Homo sapiens: one gene and its partners. The protein of the gene in region 3 interacts with the protein of the main gene of each other region in a pairwise test. Each region holds a gene or a part of one and is shown on either strand. Other genes may lie near its edges.

Region 1 (3,750 bases), on a different chromosome or scaffold from region 3:
AGGAGTCAGCAAGTCATAAGGGAAAAAGTGTAGCATTTGGAATCGTAGATCTGCCACTTACCAGGGATGATCCTGGACCAGTTACTTAAAACTTTCTAAATCTCTACTGCCTCATTTTTTTTTCTTTGTTGGAGACAGGGTCTAGCTCTGTCTCTCAGGCTGGAGTGCAGTGGCGAAATCATAGCTCACTATAACCTCAACTCCTGGGCTCAAGTGATTCTCCCGACCCAGCCTCCCAAGCAGCTAGGACTACAGGCTCACACCACCACACCCAGCTAATTTTTTTTTTTTTTTTTTAGCAGAGATGGGGTCTCCTGTGTTGCCCAGGCTGTCCTCCAAACTCATGGCCTCAAGTGATCCTCCTGCCTGGGCTTCCTAAAGCGCTGGGATTACAAGCCTAAACCACCACTTGGGCAATATTTCATATTGAATGTTGAAAATTACCATGCAACTGTGCATATATCAGGTTAAAGAAAATACATGGTTAAAATCAAACCCACCTGTTTCTCTTCAGTTGTTTAATATGGCTACAAAAAACTTAAAAATATGCCGGACGCGGTGGCTCACGCCTGTAATCCCAGCACTTTGGGAGGCCGAGGCGGGCGGATCACGAGGTAAGCAGATCGAGACCATCCTGGCTAACACGGTGAAACCCCCGTCTCTACTAAAAATACAAAAAATTAGCCGGGAGTGGTGGCAGGCGCCTGTAGTCCCAGCTACTTGGGAGGCTGAGGCAGGAGAATGGCCTGAAACCGGGAGGCGGAGCTTGCAGTGAGCCGAGATCGCGCCACTGCACTCCAGCCTGGGCGACAGAGCGAGACTCCGTCTCAAAAAAAAAAAAAAAAAAAAAAAACGTAAAAATACGTATGTGGCTCACAATATGCTTCTGTTGGACAGTTTTCTGTTAGACCCTTCCTTTTTCCAGCTCTACAGTTCATCCTGAATACACCACTTGGAGTTTCCAACTGGGCCCTGTTTCTGTGCCGGAGACTTTGGAGACAGTAGTCCTGGTACCCGAAACACTTTTTCCCCTTCTCCTTGCTGAATGGACTGTTTTTATTCATTCAGATCTTAATTTTTAACTACAGCTTTCTCCAAGAAGCGTCCCTGATCCCACCACGTCCCCTGCAAGACGTTTTTAGGGCCTCCTATGAGATAGGAAAATCCACATACAGCACTTATTTTACTGTATTTGCAATTGCCTGTTTTCTGGTTTGTGTCCCAGACAAGACTGGAAGCTCCTTGAGGAGACAGATCCTCAGAACTGCTCCGTCTTCCACGCCCAGGCGTCAAAGCCCAGCACAAAGCGGTCTCTCCACTGAACAAGTGAGCGCTAGGGCACAGACCGTGAGCGAATGCGGGGGAGTACAAAGGTTCAAGGGTGAGGCGGTAGAGGGGGCTGAAGCAGAAACTACAAGGGAGCCAGAGAGGGGTGGGGGCCGCTGGCAGGACTCACCAGTCTCTGCTGGTCGACGTCGGCGTCTGGCCGTTTGGCCGAGGGCTGCAAGTACTCAGCGTAGCGCAAACTCTCGCCAACTGGAGCGATGACACCACGGGCAGCCATGGCAAGGCGGCCCGGAGACTCAAGGCGCCGCGGCAGTGACTACGAGGCGGCCGTAGGGACAAACTAGTTAGCGCGGTTTCTTCTCGCAGATCCAGTGGACTCTGCGCTCGTTGTGCTATTAAAGGCGAGGTTCCCGGAAGATACCCTTCTCACCCGAGCTGGGTAACGTGTCCCGTGCAAGCACGGGGTCACACTCCGAAAGGAGCCAAGGGCACTGGGACGTTCTTGAATCACACTCACAGGCGCAAAGCCAACGCGGACCCTCAGGGAGCTTTATATACTTGGGCCTGGTCCCTCCCCAGGCCGCCGTAAGGGACTGGGCTTAAGCCCTGCGAACTGATGTTGGTCGAATCAGATGACTGCCCAGTAAGCTCGGAGTCTAGCTGTAGTGCCTGAGGGTGGGCTTGCCTGAGCTTTCCTGACCCCCTTCCGGGCAGCCTTTCTTCCCACTCTCAACTTCTGTTCGCACTTCTGTTTAATGCCACAGTTCTACCACCCCGGGAGAGAAATTAAAGAGGCAATTTGCTTACTCCACCCCCAAGTAAATGGCTGTATTTAAGGTGAAATTACACAGAAGAAAGTTGTGGCCGGGTGCGGTGGCTCACGCTGTAATCCCAGCACTTTGGGAGACCGAGGCGGGTGGATCACACCAGCTTGGCCGACATGGTGAAACCTCGTCTCTACTAAAAATACAAAGATTAGCTGGGTGTGGTGGTGCGTCCCTGTAATCCCAGCTACTCAGGAGCCTGAGGCAGGGGAAAAAAAGTTGTGAGCAAGTAGGTAAATCTTACTCTCCCTCAAATGAGTTTGTGCTGATTTGTATATATAAAAGCCCATTTTATTATTAAGCTTTTTTTTTTTTTTGAGATGGAGTCTCGCTCTGTTGCCCAGGCTGAGTGCAGTGGCGCAATCTCTGGCTCACTGCACCCTCTGCCTCCCGAGTACCTGGGATTAAAGGCACGTGCCACCACACCTGGCTAATTTGTGTATTTTTAGTAGAGACGAGGTTTCACCATGTTGGCCAGGCTGGTCTCAAACTCCTGACCTCAGGTGATCCGCCCGCTTCAGCCTCCCAAAGTGCTGAGATTACAGGCGTGAGTCACCGCGCCTGGCCTCCATCAAGTTTTTAGAGCAAAAATTAACCAGCAGTTGAAGCGTATGGTGTTTTCCAACTTCTGTACCAACGTGGCAGCTCTTTGGCTCCTTATACCCTTTGCAAAATCAGCTGACAGGAAGAAAAAGCTTTATTTTTTTTCTATTCCTGAATTTAAAGTTTTGAGGGTCTATTAATTTGTTCACTTAGTTAATATTATTAGCATGTCTAAGAAGTTAGGTCCTAGAAATTTACAATCTTGTAGGGAAGATAACACTGACACAGAATAATAGTACATACCAGAACATGAGCACATGCATTGCATAGCAGTATAAAGAGAACTGGACTGGGAATTAAACCGCCATTGCAAAATTACAACTGAGAAAGAGATCTGACCTAATCAACACCATCTTGCTTCTAACCTCCAAGCTGTCTTGTACATTCCTGGCCGTAGGCCAAACTAACTTTGGGAGGAATGTAATTCATAGTTTATAGTTTGAAACAAAGATGATAAAAGCCCTTTCCCAAAACAAACCTCCTTCTTGCCTGGGGACTAGACTGCCTTTGTAGGACTAACAAATTAGCCACAAGATCAGAAATTATGACTTAGGAGTCATGCAGCTGGAGGCTACAAGATTCTGACCCTCCCCAAATTGCTGCTGGAGCTAACATCACTATTGTAAAAACTACCACCAGTGCTTGAGATATTTTGCAGACCCCGCACTTGATGAATCAGCTGGCATCACCCAGATCGATAAACTGGCTCATCTGATCTCGTGGCCCCCACCCAGGAACTGATAACGCAAGACAACTTGGACTCCCTGTGATTTCATCTTTGACCTGACCAATCAGCACTCCCAGCTCACTGGCTTCCCCCTACTCACCGAGTTGTCCTTAAAAATTCTGATCCCCAGCTGGGCGCGGTGGCTCATGCCTGTAATCCCAGCACTTTGGGAGGCCGAAGGTGGGTGCATCATGAGGTCAAGAGAGTGAGACCATCCTGGCCAACATGGTGAAATCCCATCTCTACTAAAAATACAAAAATTAGCTGGGCGTGGTGGGTGCCTGTAGTCCCAGCTACTCGGGAGGCTGA
Region 2 (3,750 bases), on a different chromosome or scaffold from region 3:
AATTCATTTACGAGGTCCTCCATGGACTTGAAGCTGATTATTTCGGAAGAAAAATTCTCAAGCTCGGAGAGGGAGGGGTCCTCGAGATGGTGGGGAGATGAACCATAGAAACACTGGGGCTTCTCCTCCGGGTCCTCCGAGCAGGAGGGTCGAAGGTCCTCAAACTCTTCATCCAGACTCACCAGTGGGGCCTCCATTCTTGCTCAGCAGGAGAACAACAGCGACTTTCAGGATGAGTTTATCTAAAAGAAATGAACAGCGTAATGTGAGTTTAGACCAGGCTAATCTAAATAATAGAGTTAACTTTAGAGACACACCTGCTTCCAATTCCCTACTCCAAAAAACAAGGCACTGGTTAAGTACGAAGCTCCTGGACAAGATCGTCTAGGTTTGCATTCTGTTCTGTCCTACCAGCTGTGACCTTGGGCAAGTGATTAATTGCTCTGTGCTTCTTATTCTTCTCAAGACAGATATAATACTGAACCCACCTCAAAGGGCTGTTAGAAGACTAAAGGAGTAAACACAGGTGAGTGCTTAAAACAGTACCTGGAAGATAATAAGTGCCAATATTATTGAATACTTTCTGTTGGTGTTTTAGTATTATTATTTTTATTACTATTACTATTACCACAGATCCATATCCTTAACTATGTGATCTGAAAGCTGAAAATTCTCCATGACTTGTTTGGCAGCAAAATGTGACATGATCTAAACTCATCTGGCAACTAAACATGACCAACATGAATATAAAGCTGTTCATGGCTTTAATTTATCCCATTTTGTGTGTTTTGCTGCAGAAATATTAACTTTTTAATTACAAAGATTGCTATCCCAGATCCCACTGGATGAAATGCGGAATGTACACTCTATTACTACTTTCCAAAATCTGAAATAATCTGAATTCCAAATGCCTGGCCCCAGGGGTTTTGGATAAGGGTTTGTATACCTAGATATTACTACCCTTATCAATAAATAGTAGAAACTAATAAAACATTGGCTGGATGTGGTGGCTCATGCTTGTAATCCCAGCACTTTGGGAGGTTGAGGTGGGAGGATCATTTGAGCTCACTCAGGAGTTCAAGACCAGCCTGGGCAACATAGTAAGGTCCCATCTCTATTTTTATTTTTTTAAAAAAACTAATAAAACATCAATAGAGACCTTCCAATAAATGCCTGAGTTGTTTTTGTTTCGTTTCGCTTTTGAGACATAGCTTCACTCTGTGGCCCAGGCTGGAGTGCAGTGGTGTGATCTCAGCTCACTGCAACCTACACCTCTGGGTTCCACCAATCCTCATGCCTTGGCCTCCCAAGTAGCTGCGTGTGCCACCACACCCAGCTAATTTTTGTATTATTAGTAGAGATGGGGTTTCACCATGTTGGCCAGGCTGGTCTCGAACTCCTGACCTCAGGTGATCTACCTGCCTCAGCCTCCCAAAGTTCTGGGATTACAGGCATGAGCCACCGTGCCCAGACAAGCACCCAAGGTTTTCCCACACATAGAGCATATGCCTAGGAGCAGAGGAATAGACTAAATGATCTATTATCCTGTATCCTGTAAGAAACAGACCCAACTACCCATGTGCTCCAAAGCCATACTCCATAACCATCTTGGGCACTGCACCCTGGAACGCTGCACACACAGAACTCCCTTCAGTTCCCACCAACTGTGGGACCTCTACCCCTCATCGGGCCATCTTCATGCACTGCTTCCAACTGTGATTTATCCATCTGTGTGTACATCTGGGCCCCATTCAATTTTAACTTAAATTCCTCGAGGACACAGAAATCCTCTGGATATCTTCCCTGGCTCCAAATATACACTGCCTACCCTGTGGCTAGGCAGTCAATCAATATGTGCTCGTTGAAAAAATGATCTATCTCCCACATACAGTTTTCCATTTTCAGTTTCAGGCAGCACAAGCATTGCTGACTATCATACCCTTCTCTACACGCTCAACAGAAAGGCTACCAAGCTTTTCTCTTCGGTCTATAGGGTTATTGATATAGTTAGGTGCTCAAATTGGAGGCGCTTCCTGAGGGGAACCAGACAGCAAAATTCATGGATTTTGCCCTAGGAGTGCCCATTCTCCATCTCTACCTACAAAACTAAAACTCTAAATAAGCAAGGCAAAGGACATGCCAGGCAAGAACACTGCCAGTTTGTACCGGGATTTTGCTGGGATTAAGTTGATTACCGTTGCTTTAAAACATATTTGGAGCATTTACAGTTTGCAAAGGCAACATGATAGGACCTTTGAATACAAAAATATATACAAGTAGTACCATATCTTGGAAAGAAGACAGGCTCGAGAGCCAACAGATCTGCCAATGGCTGGCTGAGTGACAAGCATCATTGGTCCTGATTTCCTCATTTGTTATAAGGAAGGTGTTGGTACAGAGTTAACATCTTTAGGAGTTATTTTTAATAAATCAATAATTTAATTAATCATTTTGATTGAAGTAATATGTTTATTTAATCCAATATATCCAAAGTGTTACCATTTCAAAATGTAATCCACAAAAAAACTAATGAGGCAGTTTTTATTCTTTTTTTATACTAAGCCCTTTGAAATCCAGTGTATATTTTCCATTTACAGTACATCTCACTTTGGACTAGCCACATTGCAAGTGCTCAACAGTCAAATGTGGCCTGTGGCTACCGCAAGGGACAACACAGCTCTAAAGCAAACACAAGTAATTGCCAGTCAGGGGTTCTTCATCTTCAGTACATAGACCCCTGCAGGCTCTTTGAAGGTAACTATATTTCAATGAAATTGGTTTCCTTTACAAGACTAAGTATTTTATTTTATGCATTTAAAAACATTATTTGGAGAAGGAGCCCACAGGCTTCTCCATACCACCAAAGGAGGTCATAGTGCAAAAAAGATTAAGAATCCCTGAGCAACAAAAAAGTGAGATTAGAAAAGATGGCAGAATGCAGTAGAGAGTAAAACAGTTTTCACAGCCCAGGGATTTGTGTTGATTAAGGCAGTACTCTGTGATGGCTAAGAGCATAGGCTTTGGGTTCCTGTCCTGGTCCTGTCACTCCTAGTTGGGAGACTTTGGGCAAGTTATCAACCTCACTGTGCCTCAATTTCATCATCTATAAAATGGAGTTTAAAACAGTGCTTCCCTTGAAGATTACTTTTTGGACTAAATGAGATCATCTTTGAAGTGTTAAGTACAATGTGCAGAATATAGAAAGCATCCAATAAATATCAATCATTCTAGAAAAATCAAAGCTGGGCACGGTGGCTCACACCTGTAATCCCAGCAACTGGAGAGGCTGAGGCAGGAGGATTGGTTGAGCCCATGAGTTTGAGGCTATAGTGAGCTATGATCACACTACTGTATGCCAGCCTGGGTGACAAAGTGAGACCCTATCTTTAAAAAAAAAAAAAAAAAAGTTAAAAATAATTCTAGGAAAACCAGGATAGCTAACTTACATAGAAATGTGATGTGGGGGCTGGGCACAGTGGCTCATGCCTGTAATCCCAGCACTTTGGGAGGCTGAGGTGCGTGGATCACCTGAGGTCAGGAGTTCAAGACCAGCCTGGCCAACATGGCAAAACCCTGTCTCTACTAAAAATACAAAAAAAAAAAATTAGCTGAGCATGGTGGCAGGTGCCTGTAATCCCAGCTACTTGGGAGGCTGAGGCAGGAGAATCGCTTGAGCCCAAGAGGCAGAGGTTGCAGTGAGCCGAGATCATGCCATTGCACTCCAGCCTGGGCAACAAGAGCGAAACTCCA
Region 3 (3,750 bases):
AAAAAACCCCATGAGTTTTGGGACAGAGCTGGGCTCAAAAGAGGTCTCTGACACCATGGGATGCATGACTATGGTGGAGTCAAAACTGTCTGGGGCTCAGGTTCCTTATCTGTAAAATAAGGACAATGACAGCAGGACTTCATAAACACTAAATGAGAGACTCTACATAAAGCCTTAGCTCAGGGGCTGGCACTTGTACGCCGTTAGCTGTTACATTATCCTTATTACTATGTTAGTTAAGAAGTGGCTCCCCGAACCAGCTGCAACAGAGTCACTTGGGGAACTTACGTGTGCAGAACCTCCAGGGATAGAGCTCAAGAACCTGAACTTTTTTTTTCCCCCTCTTTTTCTTTTTGAGAGAGTTTTGCCCTGTCGCCCAGACTGGAGTGCAGTGGCACAATCTTGGTTCACTGCAGCCTCTGCCTCCTGGGTTCAAGCGATACTGGCGCCTCAACTTCCCAAGCAGCTGGGATTACAGGTGTGTGCCACCATGCCTGGCTAACATATGTATATATTATGTGTGTGTGTGTGTATATATATATATAAAATACATGATATATAAAAATATATATAACATAATAATATGTAGTATACATAAATGTATACGGTATATATAATACATATATATAATTTTTTTTTTGAGACGCAGTCTCACCCTGTCGCCCAGGCTAGAGTGCACTGGCGGATCTCGGCTCATTGCAACCTCTGTCTCGCGGGTTCAAGCGTCTGTCCTGCCTCAGCCTCCCGGGTAGCTTGGACTACAGGCGCGCACCACCCCACCCGGCTAATTTTTTAAATTTTTTGGTGGAGACCGGGTTTCATCATGTTGGCCAGGCTGGTCTCGAACTCCTGACCTCGTGATCCGCCGCCTCGGCCTCCCAGAGTGCTGGGATTACAGGCGTGAGCCACCGCGCCCAGCCAAACCTGCACTTTTAAAGCTACCCTAGGTGACCTGACAGTGTGGCGCAGGTCTGTTGACTGGCTCTACGTGCCAACGATATCACACAAACGCTCCGTGCTCGGTGTCTCGGGGCCTAGTTCAAGTCCCAGGTCAGCCACTTCCCTGGAAAGGCCAGCTTTCCACTGGGGATAACAACAGGGCAGCAACATCGACTCTGCAGCGCTGTAAGGTTCCAGGGCAGGGGAGGCGCTCACCAGCCAGACTCATGCTCCACCGCTGCCCACGGCTGCTCGCTCACACGCGGGCTAGGCACAGCGCGACCACGTTTGCCCGGCCTCTTCCAGGCAGACGGTTTTCCCTGGCCCTGAGGCCGCCGGTGCCGCCGCTGCCGGCCTCGATTCCCCCGGGTGCAACGCCCCCAGACCATGCTTCCCGCCGGGCACGCAGGGGGCGCACGGCGCCCGCCGCCCAGCCCGGAGCTCGCCGCCCGGCCCCCGGCCCCCGGCCCGACTCGGCTTCCCCTCCCCGGTAGCGCCCGACTCGGGGCTCACCATGGCAGCCGCTCTGCCTCCGGGGCTCAAACTCCGACTTCCTGGCCCCGCGGCCGGGGATCAAGCGTGGTCGGCGGGTCAGAGGTCAAGGAAAGCCGCAGAGAGCGCGTGCGCGATACGGCGCTGGGCATGCGCATTGCCTCAGTCTAAGGGCGGGCCACCGGGAGCGTCTTAGCGGCTCGGGGCGGGGTCGGAGGCGGGGTTTGACTGAGCCTGCGTCGGGCTCTGGATAACTGGGGGCGGGCTTGGGAGGGCAAGGGGCGTTACCGGGAGTCTCAATTGCCCGCGTGCTTACCCCAGTGCGCTGGAGCAGCTAAGCACATCGGTCAGACGTGGGGCGATTTCTGCCCTTGATTTTGCCAAAATATTTGGGAATGCAACATTATATGAAATCAATGAACATAATATGGAGTAGGATGCTAAATTCTCAAAAATACTTTAGAAAATAGAAAACTTCAAAATAGGTTTCATCCACATTCCTCCTGCCTGAGAAGCTCGTTCCCTTCTTCAAATCTTTGCTCAAATGTCACCTCAATGAGGCCCACCTGGACCCCTTAAAACGCCGTGACTTGCCCTCCATGAATGAAAAAAGTAACAGCTTTATTGAGATATAATCCATACACTGTAGATTTCATGATTTTCAAGTGCACAGTCCAATGCCTTTTATTCACAGAGCTGTGCCACTGTCACCACTATTAGTTCCAGAACGTTTTCATCACCCATTAGTCACTCCCCAGCCCCCTCCCCCAGCCCCTGTCAACCACTCATTTTTCTCTCTATGGATTCACAGGTTCCGGACATTTCATAGAAATGGAATCATACAAGCCAGGCGTGGTGGCTCATGCCTGCAATCTCAAAACTTTGGGAGGCCGAGGTGGATCGCTTGAGGTCAGGAACTCAAGGCCAGGCTGGGCAACATGGTGAAACCCCATCTCTACAAATACAAAAATTAGCCGGGTGTGGTGGCAGGTGCCTGTAATCCCAGCTACTTGGGAGGCTGAGTGGTGGATCTCTTGAGCCCGGGAGGTACAGGCTGCAGTGAGCTGTGATCACTGCACTCCAGCCTGGGTGACAGAGTCAGGCCCTGCCTCAAAAAAAAAAAAAAAAAAAAAAAAGGTAAAAATGAAAAATGAAAAAAAAGAAGAAATTGAATCATACAATGTGCAGCCTTTTGTGACTGGCTTATCCTCCCTTCTTGTCTCTATTTTTCTTCCAAGACTCTGATCACCCTCTACCATACCACATAATTTACTTATTTATTTTATTTATCATTTTGAGACAGGGTCTCACCCTGTCGCCCAGGCTGGAGTCCAGTGGCACAATCCTGCCTCACTGCAACCTCCACCTCCCAGGTTCAGGCGATGCTCATGCTTTAGCCTCCTGAGTAGCTGGGATTACAGGCATGGACCACCATGCCCCATTAATTTTTGAATTTTTAGTAGAGACAGGGTTTCACCATGTTGGCCAGGCTGGTCTTGAACTACTGGTCTCAAATGATCCACCCGCCACAGCCTCCCAAAGTGCTGGGATTATAGGCATGTGACACTGTGCCCAACCGGTTTTTTATTTTTAAATTATTTTTCCTTTTTTTTTTTTTTTTGAGATGAAGTCTTGCTCTGTCACCCAGGCTGGAGAGCAGTGGCCCAATCTTGGCTCACTGCGATCTCCACCTCCTGGGTTCAAGTGATCCTCCCACTTCAGCCTCCGAAAGTGCTGGGATTACAGGTGTAAGCCACCGTGCCCAGCCAAAAAAAAATTTTTTTTTTTCAAGATAGGGTCTCACTCTGTTGCCCAGGCTGCAGTACAGTAGCATGATCATGGCTCACTGCAGTCTTGACCTTCCAGCCTTGAGTGATACTTTCACCTCAGCTTTCTGAGTAGCTGGGACCACAGGCATGTGCCAACACATGTGGTTAATGTTTGTTTTTTGTCTTTTTGAGAGCGTCTCCCTGTTGCCCAGCCTGGAGTGCAGTGGCATGACCTCGGCTCACTGCAACCTCTGCTTCCTGGGTTCAAGAGATTCTCTTGCCTCAGCCTCCTGAGTAGCTGGGACTACAGGCATGGGCCACCATGTCCGGCTAATTTTTTGTATTTTTAGTAAAGACGGGGTTTCACCGTGTTAGCCAGGATGGTCTCGTGCTCCTGACCTCGTGATCCGCCTGCCTTGGCCTCCCGAAGTGCTCGGATTACAGGCGTGAGCCACCGCGCCCAGCTAATGTTTGTATTCTTTGTAGAGACAAGGGTTCCCCTATGTTGCCCAGTCTGACCTCAAACTCCTGGGTTCAAGCAATCCTCCCA

Evidence for each region.
Region 1: the proteins of PAM16 (region 3) and DNAJC15 interact in binary tests that used the Homo sapiens proteins (3 or more experiments, as listed by UniProt).
Region 2: the proteins of PAM16 (region 3) and FEZ1 interact in a two-hybrid assay, tested with the Homo sapiens proteins (2 studies listed by BioGRID and IntAct).

The regions. Positions count from the first base shown.
Region 1 is NC_000013.11:43,021,441-43,025,190, reverse strand, and holds the start of DNAJC15 (dnaJ homolog subfamily C member 15), read right to left. Parts: upstream 1,606-3,750; 5' UTR 1,565-1,605; coding exon 1,457-1,564; intron 1-1,456. UniProt on the Homo sapiens protein: Negative regulator of the mitochondrial respiratory chain. Prevents mitochondrial hyperpolarization state and restricts mitochondrial generation of ATP. Acts as an import component of the TIM23 translocase complex. Stimulates the ATPase activity of HSPA9.
Region 2 is NC_000011.10:125,489,581-125,493,330, forward strand, and holds part of FEZ1 (fasciculation and elongation protein zeta-1), read right to left. Parts: intron 243-3,750; 5' UTR 198-242; coding exon 1-197. UniProt on the Homo sapiens protein: May be involved in axonal outgrowth as component of the network of molecules that regulate cellular morphology and axon guidance machinery.
Region 3 is NC_000016.10:4,349,780-4,353,529, forward strand, and holds the start of PAM16 (mitochondrial import inner membrane translocase subunit TIM16), read right to left. Parts: upstream 1,543-3,750; 5' UTR 1,456-1,542; coding exon 1,453-1,455; intron 1-1,452. UniProt on the Homo sapiens protein: Regulates ATP-dependent protein translocation into the mitochondrial matrix. Inhibits DNAJC19 stimulation of HSPA9/Mortalin ATPase activity.